Linked DNA regions of Homo sapiens. The protein of the gene in region 1 interacts with the protein of each later gene in a pairwise test. Each region holds a gene or a part of one and is shown on either strand. Other genes may lie near its edges.

Evidence for each region. Proteins that work in one complex are often made in the same cells at the same time.
Region 2: the proteins of CCN3 (region 1) and TNIP3 interact in binary tests that used the Homo sapiens proteins (3 or more experiments, as listed by UniProt).
Region 3: the proteins of CCN3 (region 1) and MACO1 interact in binary tests that used the Homo sapiens proteins (3 or more experiments, as listed by UniProt).

The regions. Positions count from the first base shown.
Region 1 is NC_000008.11:119,419,433-119,424,965, forward strand, and holds the end of CCN3 (CCN family member 3 precursor), read left to right. Parts: intron 1-3,403; coding exon 3,404-3,700; 3' UTR 3,701-5,002; downstream 5,003-5,533. UniProt on the Homo sapiens protein: Immediate-early protein playing a role in various cellular processes including proliferation, adhesion, migration, differentiation and survival. Acts by binding to integrins or membrane receptors such as NOTCH1.
Region 2 is NC_000004.12:121,140,292-121,147,335, reverse strand, and holds part of TNIP3 (TNFAIP3-interacting protein 3), read left to right. Parts: intron 1-161; coding exon 162-287; intron 288-4,559; coding exon 4,560-4,610; intron 4,611-5,421; coding exon 5,422-5,520; intron 5,521-7,044. UniProt on the Homo sapiens protein: Binds to zinc finger protein TNFAIP3 and inhibits NF-kappa-B activation induced by tumor necrosis factor, Toll-like receptor 4 (TLR4), interleukin-1 and 12-O-tetradecanoylphorbol-13-acetate.
Region 3 is NC_000001.11:25,496,883-25,500,739, forward strand, and holds the end of MACO1 (macoilin), read left to right. Parts: intron 1-1,381; coding exon 1,382-1,584; 3' UTR 1,585-3,327; downstream 3,328-3,857. UniProt on the Homo sapiens protein: Plays a role in the regulation of neuronal activity.

The DNA.
Region 1 (5,533 bases):
GTGACGGAGAGAGCAGCTATAGCGGGGAGTTAACCCCAGAGAAAAGGCAGTGGGGTTCTTGAAGCCAGCCTATCTTCTTTTTTCTCTTTAACATATTGAAATACTCTAAGCAACTCACAGTACACCCTCAGGTAAAGAGGGAGAGGGACCGGAAAACTATAATGCTTTTCCCAATAGAGAATGGTCTAGCAAATCCCATTCCATTCCTGGAGAAAACTGGCTACAGTTGTCAAGCACAGCTGATTCTAAAGAGGTCACTTCTGACCTCAGTTCTCTTTATTCGTCAGGTTCTGTATGTATGGGTAGAGGCCATGTGGGTCTTACCTCTCAGTCCTCAGCTTTCTACCTGGCAGATATTGTGTGCGTGATAAACAACTGTTGATAAATAAGCGAGTGACTGTCTGGGAATTATTGTTGGTATTTTTAAAAACCTAGTGGAAATAATACATTTGCCAGCATAAAGCAATATGGGCCAAATAAAACAGCACATATCTTTTTATTTTTTTTTTGTTGGAATTACATCAACTCAGTATGTTAACACTGAATGTGAGACGTGCAGTTCAGAAGCTCTGATTGGTTGCTGATGACATCACAGGCCTTGTTACCAGAGCCCTATATCAGAAAAATGCAATACCCAATTTGAACCATTATATGGATCCTTATACAAACCTAAGACTAAAATAAAACAGCCCTTAGCAATTCAAGATTTACATATCTTGACACTGAAGCAATATCATCTAATGCGTAAGAGGACAACTGTGGAGCCAGACAGCTTGGCTTCAAATTCTGTCTTTCCACATGAACCAGCTATGTAATCTTGGGCAATTTTCTTAACCTCTCAGCCTCAATTCCTTCTCCCACATAATGGGGCGGCTGAAAGTACCTACCTTAACTTGTCACGATGATTACATAGAATGAATTTGCAAAATGCTGGGTATAGATTAAGTACTCTGTTAACAGTAGCCACCATTACTTATGATTTCTATTTACTGGTAAAATAAGAGTCCCTAGTGGTTGCATTAGTTATATGGCTGCTTAGCTATATAATTTTTGGAAGTCCATCCTAACTTTACTTTTCTTCCACCAGTTTAGAAAGAACACCTAGAAACACCTTATCCCTAAAATTATATCCTAGGAGATGCACTTCCCCACGCTCAGAGGAATTCAAACATATATCTAACATAGTCATATAGGTTCACCCACATAAGCAGTCTCACATACAAACACATACACACACATAGGAATGTTGTTATCCTGTACCATTTTGTGGGTGTTGACAAGAATACACGCTAAATATTAAATTGAAAAAGTAAGAAGAAGTCCTTAAATATTTTCAATAGCACAGCAACTTCTTTATTAAACAAGATGTTTCCATTTAATGCCTCTAAGATGTGGCTTTTTCTATTGTGTCATTTTGCAAAATTTGTATTTTTTCTTGTAACTTGAATCTTCTTTAATATTTGGATATGTTATTTTAAAGATGGTTATTTATAGTATACATATTTTATAAAAATTGTACTAGTATAACAATCATTACTTCCTTGTCTCCAAGAGATTCTTAAATCTAAGACAGTGGTTCTTTTTTTTTTTTTTTTTTTTTTTTTGAGACGGAGTCTTGCTCTGTCACCCAAGCTGGAGTGCAGTGGCACAATCTTGGCTCACCGCAAGCTCCGCCTCCCGGGTTCACGCTATTCTCCTGCCTCAGCCTCCTCAGTAGCTGGGATTACAGACGCCCTCCACCATTTTTTTGTATTTTTTAGTAGAGACGGGGTTTCACCATGTTAGCCAGGATGATCTTGATCTCCTGACCTTGTGATCTGCCCGCCTCGGCCTCCCAAAGTGCTGGGATTACCGGCCTGAGCCACCGCGCCCGGCCGACAGTGGTTCTTAAAGGGTGGTCCCCAAACCAGCAGCATCATCTAAGAAGTTGTTAAAATGTAAATTTGTGGTGTGGGTCCCACATCGGATGTACTGAATCCAAAACTCAGGGTGTGAGGTCTGACAGCTTGTTTTAAGAAATCCTCTAGATGATTTTGATGTGCACTGAAGTTTGAGAGCCACTGATTTAAGATAATTCCAAGTCTAATCACCCCACAAGCTGTGGGTCATGCCTATGAAGGTGAACAGTGGATAACTGTAGGAAATTAGTAGATTAAGAAATATAAGTAAGAAATAAAATATAGCCAATTCTTTGCTGAATTATCAACATTGGGCCTCTTCATTTATCATTACTAATACAATCTTGAAAACATTCTCCACTTTATTTGCCTCCATGCAAATTCCATGTCTTGGAATTTCCTGGGTTCATCACGTAATAGAAAGAATGGGCTTTGTACAGACAAATTCAAATATTAGATGTTTTCTGATCCCTTTAGGTCTTTGAGACTCAGTTTCTTCATCTGTAAAACTTGGGCAATTGTTCTTTCTATGAATGATTATTTCTTGTATGAATGAACACTGTTAATAAGGTTGAGTTAATGTTTGAAGAGTATTTGAAACATAAAATAATGCCAGATTTATAAACATTCTTTTTATAACATGTTGTATTAGTCCATTTTCAAACTGCTATGAAGAACTACCCAAGACTGAGTAATTTATAAAGAAAAGATGTGTAATTGCCTTACAGTTACACATGGCTGGGGAAACTTCAGGAAACTTACAATCATGGCAGTAGGTGAAGGGGAAACAAAACACATCTTACATGGCAGCAGGACAGAGAGAGACAGAGAGAGAGAGAGAAAGAGAGAGAGAAAGGCAGAAAGAGAGAGAGAGAGACAGTGAGAGGGGAAGTGCCACACTTTTAAACCATCAGATCTTGTGAGAACTCACTATCACGAGAACAGCAAGGGAAAAATCTGCCCCCATGATCTAATTACCTCCCACCAGGCCCCTCCTCTGACACGTGGTGATTACAATATGAGAAGAGATTTGGGTATGAACACAGAGAACCAAACTGTATCACGTGTAAAAATCCATTTGGCTAAAAATGACACCAAAGCATGTTACAGTGTCTTAAAAGATAGGTTTTGTTATGCTTTCACCTGCATGCTCATCTCCTCAATGTCAAAAGACCATTATGTACAATTAGGCAAGGTGTTTACATTCCAGGAAGAAAGGAAAATGAATACAGGAACAATAAAGAATTGTACCTACTCAAAGGGCAAAGAATTTCCCAGATTCTCTTGGCCAGAACTTTGCCACAAGGTTATCCCAAGTCCCACATAGTCTGTGGAAGCAAATACTTTTAGCTGACTACATTGCTCAAGCAAAATTAATGTTCTGATAGCAAAGAAGAAAGACCAATAGATATTGGGTGGGCAACTAGCAGGTAATTCCATACTCTAAAATTGTCCCTCAGGGGAATGGTAGCCATTCAATACATCACTTCTTTTTTCTTTCTTAGAAAGGAAAAAAGTGTCTCCGCACCAAGAAGTCACTCAAAGCCATCCACCTGCAGTTCAAGAACTGCACCAGCCTGCACACCTACAAGCCCAGGTTCTGTGGGGTCTGCAGTGATGGCCGCTGCTGCACTCCCCACAATACCAAAACCATCCAGGCAGAGTTTCAGTGCTCCCCAGGGCAAATAGTCAAGAAGCCAGTGATGGTCATTGGGACCTGCACCTGTCACACCAACTGTCCTAAGAACAATGAGGCCTTCCTCCAGGAGCTGGAGCTGAAGACTACCAGAGGGAAAATGTAACCTGTCACTCAAGAAGCACACCTACAGAGCACCTGTAGCTGCTGCGCCACCCACCATCAAAGGAATATAAGAAAAGTAATGAAGAATCACGATTTCATCCTTGAATCCTATGTATTTTCCTAATGTGATCATATGAGGACCTTTATATCTGTCTTTTATTTAACAAAAAATGTAATTAACTGTAAACTTGGAATCAAGGTAAGCTCAGGATATGGCTTAGGAATGACTTACTTTCCTGTGGTTTTATTACAAATGCAAATTTCTATAAATTTAAGAAAACAAGTATATAATTTACTTTGTAGACTGTTTCACATTGCACTCATCATATTTTGTTGTGCACTAGTGCAATTCCAAGAAAATATCACTGTAATGAGTCAGTGAAGTCTAGAATCATACTTAACATTTCATTGTACAAGTATTACAACCATATATTGAGGTTCATTGGGAAGATTCTCTATTGGCTCCCTTTTTGGGTAAACCAGCTCTGAACTTCCAAGCTCCAAATCCAAGGAAACATGCAGCTCTTCAACATGACATCCAGAGATGACTATTACTTTTCTGTTTAGTTTTACACTAGGAAACGTGTTGTATCTACAGTAATGAAATGTTTACTAAGTGGACTGGTGTCATAAACTTTCTCCATTTAAGACACATTGACTCCTTTCCAATAGAAAGAAACTAAACAGAAAACTCCCAATACAAAGATGACTGGTCCCTCATAGCCCTCAGACATTTATATATTGGAAGCTGCTGAGGCCCCCAAGTTTTTTAATTAAGCAGAAACAGCATATTAGCAGGGATTCTCTCATCTAACTGATGAGTAAACTGAGGCCCAAAGCACTTGCTTACATCCTCTGATAGCTGTTTCAAATGTGCATTTTGTGGAATTTTGAGAAAAATAGAGCAAAATCAACATGACTGGTGGTGAGAGACCACACATTTTATGAGAGTTTGGAATTATTGTAGACATGCCCAAAACTTATCCTTGGGCCATAATTATGAAAACTCATGATCAAGATATATGTGTATACATACATGTATCTGGTTTGTCAGGCTACAAGGTAGGCTGCAAAATTAAATCTAGACATTCTTTTAATGCCACCACACGTGTTCCGCTTCTCTCTTTTAAAGTATTTATAAAAATATAAATTGTACATTTTGTAAAATATTATGTTTGATTTCTCTACTTGTCATATCACTAAATAAACACGATTTTATTGCTGCGTGACTCTGTATTACTTTGGTGCATAAAAGTTGAACATTGTTGTTTACTGAAAATAAAATTAAAATTTATGAATTAAATGAGACATCAATCAATAGCATCTATTGAAAGCAAAATGAGTATTTCTGGATGAGCTTACAACTTCTTATCAGAAGGGAAACAAAAGACAACTCAGTATTCCTGAGTTAGATGTTCCTCACCATCACAGCCTCAACTAGCCTCCACACTACTTACCCAGACCCTCATCTCAAGCCCTGATCTTTTTTTTTCTGGACAGCCCGCTAGACACCTCTGTATATTGAAATTTAAACTTGTTATCTGACCAAACAAAATTCAGCTCTGTGGCTTCCTCATCTAATCAAAGGGCATCCCATCCTCCCAATTGCACGGCTTAAATGGCCAGCACTTTCTTGATCAGTATTATCTTGCCAAGTACCCAGAAAAGCATATTTCCATTGATCATGGGGAATTGCGTGACAAACTGGGCTGCACACTGGGCAGAGTCACAGTTAATAGAAGTTTTGTGTTTGGAAGCTTCTTGCTGATGCAGTGTGGCTCTCAAGTTCTATAATTTGTAAGGAAAAATCTTTTCAAAAGAGTTTTACTATTAC
Region 2 (7,044 bases), on another chromosome or scaffold:
TGTGTTAGGGATGGATGACTTGCTCCAAAACAGTGACACTGAACACTAGTTGGGAGGGTTCTTTACAATAATGGAGTAGGCAGCAGTCATTTAAAATAAAGTCATTTAAATGGCTTAAGTGAAAAGGAAGCTTACAGTAACAGCAAGCTAATATTTCTTAGGTGCAAATATACGAAGAAGACTTCAAAAAGGAACGATCGGATCGAGAGAGACTTAATCAAGAGAAAGAGGAGCTACAGCAAATTAATGAAACTTCCCAATCCCAGTTGAACAGGCTGAATTCCCAGGTACAAGTCAAAACAAAATAATCTTTGCCAGCATGTATGTATATTTTTTTCATTTAAAAAAATTCAAGACGTTTGGACTTCTGTTAATTGACATTGAATTTTTTTTTAAAGGTCAGCACCTGGGATGAAGTCATTCTTAAACAATCTTGTAAAGAGATGAAAATGACTGGAAATTTCTTTTAACTTAAGTATATTAAGGAATTGCCCAAGAAATTGCATTCCAAAGTTTTTTTTAATAAAATACAGTCCTTTTGATCTTTTTCTCATAATATTTATCTTGGTAGAATGAGAGTTGAACTACCTAGTACTCAAATAAAGTGAAGTGGTTTTTAAAATTCTTGTCATTTTCTTTGAAGGGCTATGTTGGAATGCTCCTGTCTGCCAAAAACATACGTATTTCTAAATGCCATTTATATGTGAGACTGAGGATTTTGTTCAGTGGTTCCCAGATGTAATGTAACTGGAGTACTTTGAAGGAAGCCAGATAATGGTCACCAGTTTATTAAAATAGAATATATTAAATGTAAGCATACTAAAATTAAGTGTAATTGAACATATTAAAGTAGACTCAGGAAGTTGCCACGATGGGTAAATAGTGATGTTAATGAAGGAAAATGTAGCTAACATAATTTTGCCTTAAAAAATAAAACAAACTGCACCATTTTTATTTGTAAAATATTGCAATACATTTAAATAAATAGAACATTGTTATGAGAATGCTGTGGCAGCACTTAGCTTCAAGATTCTTCGTCATAAAAAAATTTAAAACAGTCATCATTTTCTTCCAAATACAAAGTGGATTGTGAATTAAATTTAATTTTATCTCTGATTTTTTTAAGATTAACTTGAAATTCTTAATTTTACATGGAAAAAATTGTTTTGCAGAACCATTTTCTCTGTAAGAAATTAGAAAAAATAAAATAGTAGTAAAAAATCAAATAATTTTATGAAAGTAATTCAGGCAACCTAATAAATAATTCATACAATAATAGGTAAGACAATGTTCTGATTACTCTTGGTAAAAAAAAAGAGTATATATTGTATATTCTCTCTCTCTCTTTTTTTTTTTATGAGATGGTGTTTTGCTCTTGTTGCCCAGGCTGGAGTGCAATGGCATGATCTCGGCTCACCGCAACCTCCACCTCCCAGGTTCAAGCTAGTCTCCTGCCTCAGCCTCCCAAGTAGCTAATTTTTTTGTATTTTTATTCTTTTAATGTGTTTCTTACATGCCCAACTACTCTAATTTCTTTTAAGTTGTCTCTGCACAAACTGTTTTACTTGCTGCCAGTAAAACAGTTTTAGAACAAAAAATATTTGTTTTTTAAAGCAATTTTAAAATTTGCTGCCAGTAAAACAGCAAGTAAAACAACTTTAATTTTAAAACAATTTTTAATAATTTATTTTTATATGATAAATTATATATCAATATATAATTATATTTAATTAAATAATTTTATTTATTCTACTATATTAAGATTGGTGATAGACTGGCAATGTCCTTGCCATTACAGAACTTTTAGTCTTGTCAGGAATGTATATCTATCTACTTAACGTTGTATACTATAATCCACAAGTCCTTAACTGTGTCACCTGTAAAGTTGATTGGTATCAACAAAATAAATGTATTTTCTAAATGCAGTATGGTATAATTCTGCCTTGAACCTAAAGGACAATCTTAATGATATCTAAAGTGATAGATTAAAGCTATGAAATTTTTTCTTTAAAATAATGAAAGCTCAATCATTTTTTTAAAGTCTCATTTACTCAATAGGAGAATGATAGAATTCACAGAGATGTAATAGATGGTTTGATGATCTGTGTTAAATGTGTTAACAGCAGATTAAATGCTATGATATTTTAAAAAGAACTGACATTACCTTAGTTGAATAACATATTATTTGTTGTCCAAGTGGACTTTTAGAGGAATATTTAGGTCAAATCATTCTGGCATTCTGAGTTGCTTTCTTACCAGAATGTATTCATTCTATCACTGAGGATGCGTTAAGTCAGTGAAAATAAGTAATGTGGTAAAGTGAAAGATGCTTAGGGTACTTAGAAATATGAGAATTTAGGGGGAAAAGACTTGGTGTTCCTGCCTGCTCTAATATTCCATTGGTGGTAACCTTGAACAAGTTATTTAACTTTTCTATGCTTCCTTTTCTTCATCTGTACAATGACAAAGTTGAACTAGATGATCTCTAAAATGCTTCTTATTACTCTAAAATCTCTCTCTAAAAAATAAGTTCCTTAACCTCTTTTAGTATACCTGCCTGTAAAATATAGATAATGAAACCTACCTTGTGACTTCCTAAGTTGTTCTCAATATTAAGTGAAAAAAGCAAAAACAGGCCGGGTGCGGTGACTCATGCCTGTAATCCCAGCACTTTGGGAGGCCAAGGCGGGCAGATCACCTGAGATCAGGAGTTTGAGACCAGCCTGGCCAAAATGGCGAAACCCTGTCTCTACTAAAAGCACAAAAATTAGCTGGGCATGGTGGCACGCGCCTGTAATCACAGCTATTTTGGAGGCTGAGGCAGGAGAATCACTTGAACCCAGGAGGCAGAGGTTGCAGTGAGCCGAGATTGGGCCACTGCATTCCAGTCTGGGCAACAGAGTGGGATTCTGTCTCAAAAAGAAAAGAAAAAAACAAAAAAACGCTTTAGAAAACATTTAGCTCAAGTCAAGTCATGGCTCAGAGGTATTTTATAAATTATTTTAGTCTATTAGAAGAGGGGGCATGTTTAATAGTTTCATTTAGTTTATAATTAGCATGGTACTTTCAGTTCTTTGTAATCTAATTTTGATGCTTTCTTTTTGCAAGGCATTCTGCTATATGCTGTGAGAAAACGAAAACTGGTTCTTGCTAGTAAATAACTCACAATATAGTAAAAGAGACATGTACAGTCTATCCTCATCATCACAAATTCTGCATATGTGAATTTCCCTACTGACTAAAATGCATTTGTCATCCCCAAATCAATACTTGTGGTGCTTTGTGATACATCCTTACATATGAGCAGAGCAGCAAAGTTGTTTCCTGACATATACACATTCCTAGTGTTCTTTTTGTGATCTATTTAGTGCCATGTTTCCTGCATTTTTGTGCTATTTGTTGGTGATTTCATGGTTTAGAATGGCCCACACGTATATGCTGTCATGCTCTCTAGTATTCCTAAGCATGAAGGATGTGATGTGCCTTATAGAGAAAAAGTGTGTTAGAGAAGCTTCATTAAGACATGTTATAGTACTCTTGACCATGACTTCAGAGTTAATCAACAATACATATTAAATAAGTTGTCTTTAATCAGAAACACACATGAAACAAAGTTATGTATTGATCCATTGACACAAATGTTGTGACAAGAGGCTAGCAGAAACTTAACCCAACATTTCTCCTAGGAGCAGTGGTTCAATATTCACTAATTCAGTGTCCGTGGTGACTTTATGGAATATGACCACCACAAGCAGCAAGAATTGCCTGTAAATAGTACACATTGGTCTAAAAAATCACACAGTAAATATACAACACTACATAAGAGGACAGAATAATTCTGATAAGTGGGACTTGGAAAGGTATCATTCAGAAGGGGATATTTGACCATCCCTTATGGGAATGTGGGACATGGAGTGTAGGAATGACAATGATGTGAATGAACAGTCAAGGAAAAGCCAGCTTTCTCTAAATGTGTCTTAAGTTAAGGGAACCCAGGGTAGGTGATTCATCTAGATGAGGCTGGGCCTTAAGTAGTGAGAAGCTGTGGGATATAGCAGTGTGACTTTGAACAAGTTACTCAGAATCTTATGTCTTAGTGTTCTCATCTATAAAATTGAGATAGTATTAAGTATCACATAGAGGGATTGGGAGAATTCAGTGAGTTATTGCATGTAAAAAATTTAGATAAGTTTCTGACATGGATTAAGTGCATATATAACTTCTAACGTTTATTGTGGAAGCCTTTGAATGTCAGGTTGACAATTCCAATGTCATTCAGTAAGCAATGGAAATTGTTTCTATATCTGTATCTAAATAGATCTACCTAAAACAGAATTGTAATGGCCTCAAAAAACTGGAATAGCAATTTAAAACTATCACATTTTTCAAACTGCAACTGGAAATTTTAAGAATCAATGCATGTCTGCAAAAACCAACTTGTGGCTATTTTTGTTGGTATTACTGCTGTCAATGCCTGACACTTGAGTAGGTCAAGAGTGGCTTGGGAATTAATGATTTTAACTTGTCTTGATTAACAAATGCCTTTGTTTTGTCTTTAGATAAAAGCTTGTCAGATGGAGAAAGAAAAACTAGAAAAGCAATTAAAACAGGTATGTTGATCTAATTTTCACGCATACATTTATTCCCATGTACAGCATTTCTCATTGTCCCAATTAAAGACATGTTCAAGCTCTGCTACAGGTGACCTACAACAACCCATGCTTTTCATTACTGACTACACCATCAACGGATAGACAGTGCTTAGGCACCACCAAGGCCTTTCAACCCTAACACTCATAGAAAGCATATGCTTTATAGAGCATGTTACCAGTAGCACAAGTCTTAGTGCTCCTTAGACCCACAAGCACCTGGAAATAGATTTCATTGGTATTTCATGCAGTTGCTGACACAATTAACAGTAGAAAACTAAATCAAATACTGCCTCTTTTGAAAAAATAACATGCCTTCTTGAGCACTGAAGCATTCTATCCCATGGGTTCTCTAATAGCCTTAAATAATGAATATTATTTGTCCTAATTCCTAATTTCCTTTCTGGATTTTAGTTTTCCCTGGCTACAATTTAAGAAAACCTATTTTATGACTCAATGAATAGATTTTCTTCATTGAGGGCCCTCAATAAAGATAACTCAAAAACATAAAGTTAACTCTATATACTTTTCAAGTGTGTCTAATTTCTTCAAAATGGGGAAATGATTATAGTTTCACCTTAGGTAAAACTTGACCTGTGAGCCTCGTTTGTATTGGTCCTGAGTCTATTGACATGTTTACTATTTTGAGTTATAATTATGCCAGATTAAGTGGAACCTTAAGATTGAAACCAAACCTTTTGTATAAAGCAATGTCACTGCAACTCCTCAGTCTCTCCCACTGGTAGTGACCCCACAGTTTTGTTCTCCTCAGATGTATTGCCCACCCTGTAACTGCGGCTTGGTTTTCCACCTGCAAGATCCATGGGTACCAACAGGCCCTGGAGCTGTGCAGAAGCAACGGGAGCACCCAGTAAGTAAGAGTGCATTTGAAAAAGTGCTTAGTATACTGTTTTGGTAGAAATTATGTGCATCTCTGGAATTTCAGCACATTATATTATCTACAGCAAGAGCCTCTGTTTTCTCTCAGCCTCTAACTTGCAAAGTTGGAGTGGTCAATGTACACTAGAATTATCTTTGGGACACTGAATCCATAGGACACATAGATACGAATAAATTAACTGAAAGGTATTAAATTGGGAATAATTCCTTGAACAACATATAACATTTTCAATTGGCATACTTCATTCTACCCAAAGGACATTTTCTGTATAAAGTGTATTTATGTATAAAGGAAAGTGGATATGGCAAAACAAGAAAAATGAGATGCTTTTGTTCGGTTGTAAATTTATATTGAACTACTATGGATATTGCTACATATGTGCAAAATAGATTTTGACATTTTCCAATTGAAAGGATTTTCTTAAAGGATCCAAGAAAAAGTGACCCACTTAAGTTGTTCTCCATGGCTGTGTCTTCCCAGACAAAATGAAATGCAGAGTTGAGCAATTATTTGTGAGGGGAATTGATTTGGACAGTCAACCTGAATTAGTGAGGCCCAAAGCACCCTTTTTTTCCTTCTCAATAGCAGTATTCCACCTACCCTCCTCTACTTTTTATTTTGCCTACATAGATAGAAATTTATCCAGGAAAAAAATATGCATTTTCTGCATTTTGGATTTACCCAGACAAATCCCGCTACCCTTTAGGTTTGATTAATTGTGTTTCTCATGATGAAAAAATCTAAGATTTTTAACTGGGATTTTCCTACCAGAATGCTTACAGAGAACATGATTCTCTTGGCTTCCTGAAAGTTCTCATACTTTTGTTCGAGTGTGACTCAAAACCCTTTTCCCAAGGGAGGAGATAATGACTCTTTGGGTGGCTGAAGGAATGTGAGGATTTAATGAGCATCTCTTATTTGACCCTGGTATGACACAGCACACCGCTAAGAATTGAGTCTTTTCATGTTATTGCGGGTTGCTAGTTCTGTCTGCTCTCCCTCCCCCTTTTCCTTTTTTTTCTTTACCTGTTTGCTTACTTTTCAGTCTTTACCAATAACATTAAATTTTTTTTTCAAGAATGTAGAAGTCAACTCAGATTGTGAGAAACATAAAGAGAAATTTACTGTAGGAGTGAATTAACCTATAGGAGTTGGCTTCTACAGGTTGGGGGATTGGAGAAATATTCTTATGAAAGGTTAACTATAAAACCAATCAGTCATTCACATTTACCTAGGAGTACAAATTATTGTTTCAGTCAAATATTTCTTTATGGAAAGAAGGAAGGAATTCACCTACTATAGCTCATCAAACAGTCCATGTCAATTAAAAAAGGCAAGGCAGTCCAGGTCACATAAAATTGTCACCAAATAAAGGCCTATATTTGAAAAAGGACTCCAAGCCATGTAGAATGGCCTACATTTTCTTTCTTTTTTTCTTTTTTCTTTTTTTTTGAGAAGGCATCTCGCTCTGTCATCCAGGCTGTAGTGCAGTGG
Region 3 (3,857 bases), on another chromosome or scaffold:
CCTTGAGCAAGTCACTCAACTTCTCTATGCCTCAGTTTCCTCATCTATAAAATGGATAATAATAATTCCCCCATCATGGGGTTGTCGTAAGAAAGAAATGAGTTAGTATACATAAGCATTTAGCATGCCTGGCATATATGAAGCCCTATGTGTTAGTTTTTGTCATTATAAGTGACAGAAAGGGAAGTGGAGGGTGTGTTAAGAATCTAGGAGTTAGACCGGGCGCGGTGGCTCACACCTGTAATCCCAGCACTTTGGGAGGCCGAGTTGGGCAGATCACCTGAGGTTGGGAGTTCGAGACCAGCCTGACCAACATGGAGAAACCCCGTCTCTACTAAAAATACAAAATTAGCCAGGCGTGGTGGCACATGCTTGTAATCCCAGCTACTCAGGAGGCTGAGGCGGGAGAATCGCTTGAACCCGGGAGGCAGAGGTTGCAGTGAGCCGAGATCTCGCCACTGCACTTCAGCCTGGGCAACAAGAGCAAAACTCCATCTCAAAAAAAAAAAAAAAGAATTTAGGAGTTGTAGGAAGCTAATTTAGACAGGAGGCTCAGGGAAAGTTTTGCTGAGGAAGTAGAAACAGAATCCTCAAGATTTAGCTAGCTTCACAAAGAAAGCAGGAGATACACAGGACAGGAAGTGGCCCGAGGTAGGCAGGAGCTGACTGGATCAAGAAACTGAAGCGTAGTGAGGGCAAGTGTGCTGGAAGGCTAAATAGGGTGATGTTGCTAAAGCAAGGGCAAGTGATGTGGGTCACACTAGCGTTCCTCCCAGTACAGCAGCCACAGAGCTTCCTCTGTTTTGTCAGAGAACCTGGTGGCAGAAGCGTATTACTGTGACTGAGTCTGAGGCCTTGGTTATGCTGTATTCCTTGGTCTGACACTCAGAGATAGTCTGTCCTCTCAAAAAAATTCCAGCTCAAGAGGTGGAGCCAGAGTTCAAAATCGCCAGCCCTCTTACGCTGTCATAGCTGACTGCCATGTTCAAAACGTGGTTCCTGGAAACTGACTTCTTTACATCAACCACACCTATATGAACAGAATCCCTTCTTAGCTCTAAGCCAAGAATCAGTAAACTGTGGCCCATGGGCCAAATCTGGCCTGCCACCTATGCCTGTACTGCCTGCCGATGAAGAATGGTTTTTACATTTTTCCATGGCTGGGAAGAAAAGATGACAAAGATAGTAAGTACACTGTATATGGCCCACGACACCTAAAATATTTACTGTGTCCCATTACAGGACAAGTTTGCCTGCTCTTATAAATCACTGAACCTGGAGCTGTTCACACTGAACCGAATCTACTTAGGGATTGGCCCCTGGGGACATTGTGTTGGGTGAGGCCTCCCTTTTCACTAATGGTGGGTCTTTGATCTTACAGGACAAATCCTTCAGAAAGATCAGGAAATCAAGGACCTAAAACAGAAGATAGCCGAAGTCATGGCCGTCATGCCCAGCATAACATACAGTGCCGCCACCAGCCCCCTGAGCCCTGTTTCCCCCCACTACTCTTCCAAATTTGTGGAGACCAGCCCCTCTGGACTTGACCCCAATGCCTCTGTTTACCAGCCCCTGAAGAAATGAAGGCCAGCTGTGTGTTGTGCCCAAAAATTTGGTTACCGGAAGGCATTGCAAAGGAGCGTCTCTGGCAGTCAAGATAAAAAAACAGTTTCTATTGTATTTTGTGGAACTGTATCTGTTGTCATTTTTAAAAAGGGGGGAAAAGATAACATCCAAGTCTGATTAGAACTGCCCATCAGTTTTTCTTGTAAATTTTTAGAAGACCTCACAGAACTTTACAGTTTATTTTTCTCGGCCAACACATTAAAACCATTCTTGGATTTCAAGTAGCCAACTTTGCCTTTTATGTATTCTTACATAGTTTCCTCTTGAAGAAAAAAAAAGCAGAGTTTTTGTTTTTCAACCCTTTATGTTTGTTTTGTTTTATTCTTAAATAAGCAAGCAAAACCTGCACATTGGATTCACGTGAGATGATAATGAAAACTTTTAGTTTAAGAGTGAAGGGTTAAGTAACCTAACAGAGCTTTGATGTTATAGCTGCATTAAAGAAGGTGATTGTCAATATTACAGAAAACAAAAATGGATTGCCCCTCCAAGGACCAAACAGATTCAAGGAGCATCATTTAAGCTAAGAAGAGACCTAAGTGATGAAACTAGCTGTAAGAATGTAACAGGGGTTGTGTTTGAAATATTTATATTCCCATCGGTGTGTTTAGTCCTAGAAAATTGCTAGCAGCAGTCTTCTTCACAGTGCCTTGGGAAAAGACATTTCAAGAGGAAACTTGATAATTTTAAACTCTTTTCCCCCTTTACCGTCATCTATCCTCTATCTGTATCAAGCTCACTGCGGATCCTGCTGTAAAACTGGTGGGTAGCTGGGCTGTCCGTTACCACCACAGCTACATCTTCTGTTTCTTTGAATAGAAAGCACCACAGTGTTTTGCACTTGCCTCCAGTAAAGTGCCCTGGGAAGGGAGCTGGGCAGTGTTTGTGGACGAGAGACTGTAACGATGGCTAATAAAAGCTGCGGGTCTAGGTTTTTTTTTTTTTGTTTTGTTTTTTCATTTCATTTAACTGTGCTTTCTCCACTTTTCATCATTTTGTGTTTGATGATTTAAAAGAAGCTTGACTATTCCTCAGCTCTTGTGCCAAGGAGGGTTTTTTTTTTTTAAGACTCTTAAACTCAAAACTCTGCACAAAGATTTCAGTTTCAAATGTGTATTATACATGGGTAGAAAAGTGTTTGCACAGGCAACTTTTGGAAGTGTTTAAGAATCAGGGTGGGGGTGGCGGGAGGGACCGGGTGGGGGCAATGCAAAATTGTATTTGGAAACTAGGAAAAATTAAGAAACCAAATAAATTGGTTTTGCTTCCTTGCCATGGATTCTGGAAGGACATAGTTCTTCTAAAATTTCCTGTTAATTGGCATGTACGTCTCATTTAAAGCAAATTAAGTAGGACAAGCAAGTCAGTAAAATAGAAGTATTAAAAAGAATCATCCTTTAAATCACAGATCTTATTTTGAGATTAAAAAAAATACTTCTAGCTTTAGCCAGGTGTGCATGTTGCTGCCATTTTGCATTTTTGAATCATCTTGTGTAATTGTCACCATGAAAGTGTTACTCAGAATTGTCATAGATTTTCTCTTCTTTGTGCAAAAACATGGAAAATTGTCACTGACTTTGTTTTGAGGTTTCCCCCATTTTGCTGCCTTTTGGGACACTTCGTTAAATACTGGTCTTGGCTGCATTCTTTTTTTTTTTTCCTGTGGGGTTCAAAAGAATAAACATTTTCTTACAGATAAAACTAGTTTTCTGCCTTTTTAACTTTCAGGAGAGCACAGCAAGGTAGATTGTTCTGAGTGGGGCTTAGCCGGTTGCTATCTTGTTCTCATCTCGGCCTGCATCAGGTGGGGGTCCCCCCACACAGCCGATCCCTGGGTAGGGGGCAGACCCAGGATTTGGGGGAGACCCATCAGGATCTCAAGTTGGTTTGGTTTCTGTGCATAAGACATGTCCATTCTCATTTGTTTTCTCCCTTCTCTGGCATCTGATTAGAGCCAAGGCTGACTTGTTTTCTGGTACAACCCTCCTTTCCTAAGAAAGCAAGTTAGGGGTGGAGTTGGGGGGTAGTTGGTGAGAAAATCTTGAGAGCAAATTTCCTTCATCAATGCCTTGCCTTCTATTTTCTAGAATCTTGCTTGGCCACTTAGTGACCAATACTCTATTGGGTTTCCTATCTGCTATAGATCCTGAACTAACCTACACTTTTATCATCCTCCCTTGTTTTTAGAGGCTTTGTCTGTTTTCATCTTCTGAGAAGCCAACTGCCTCCCT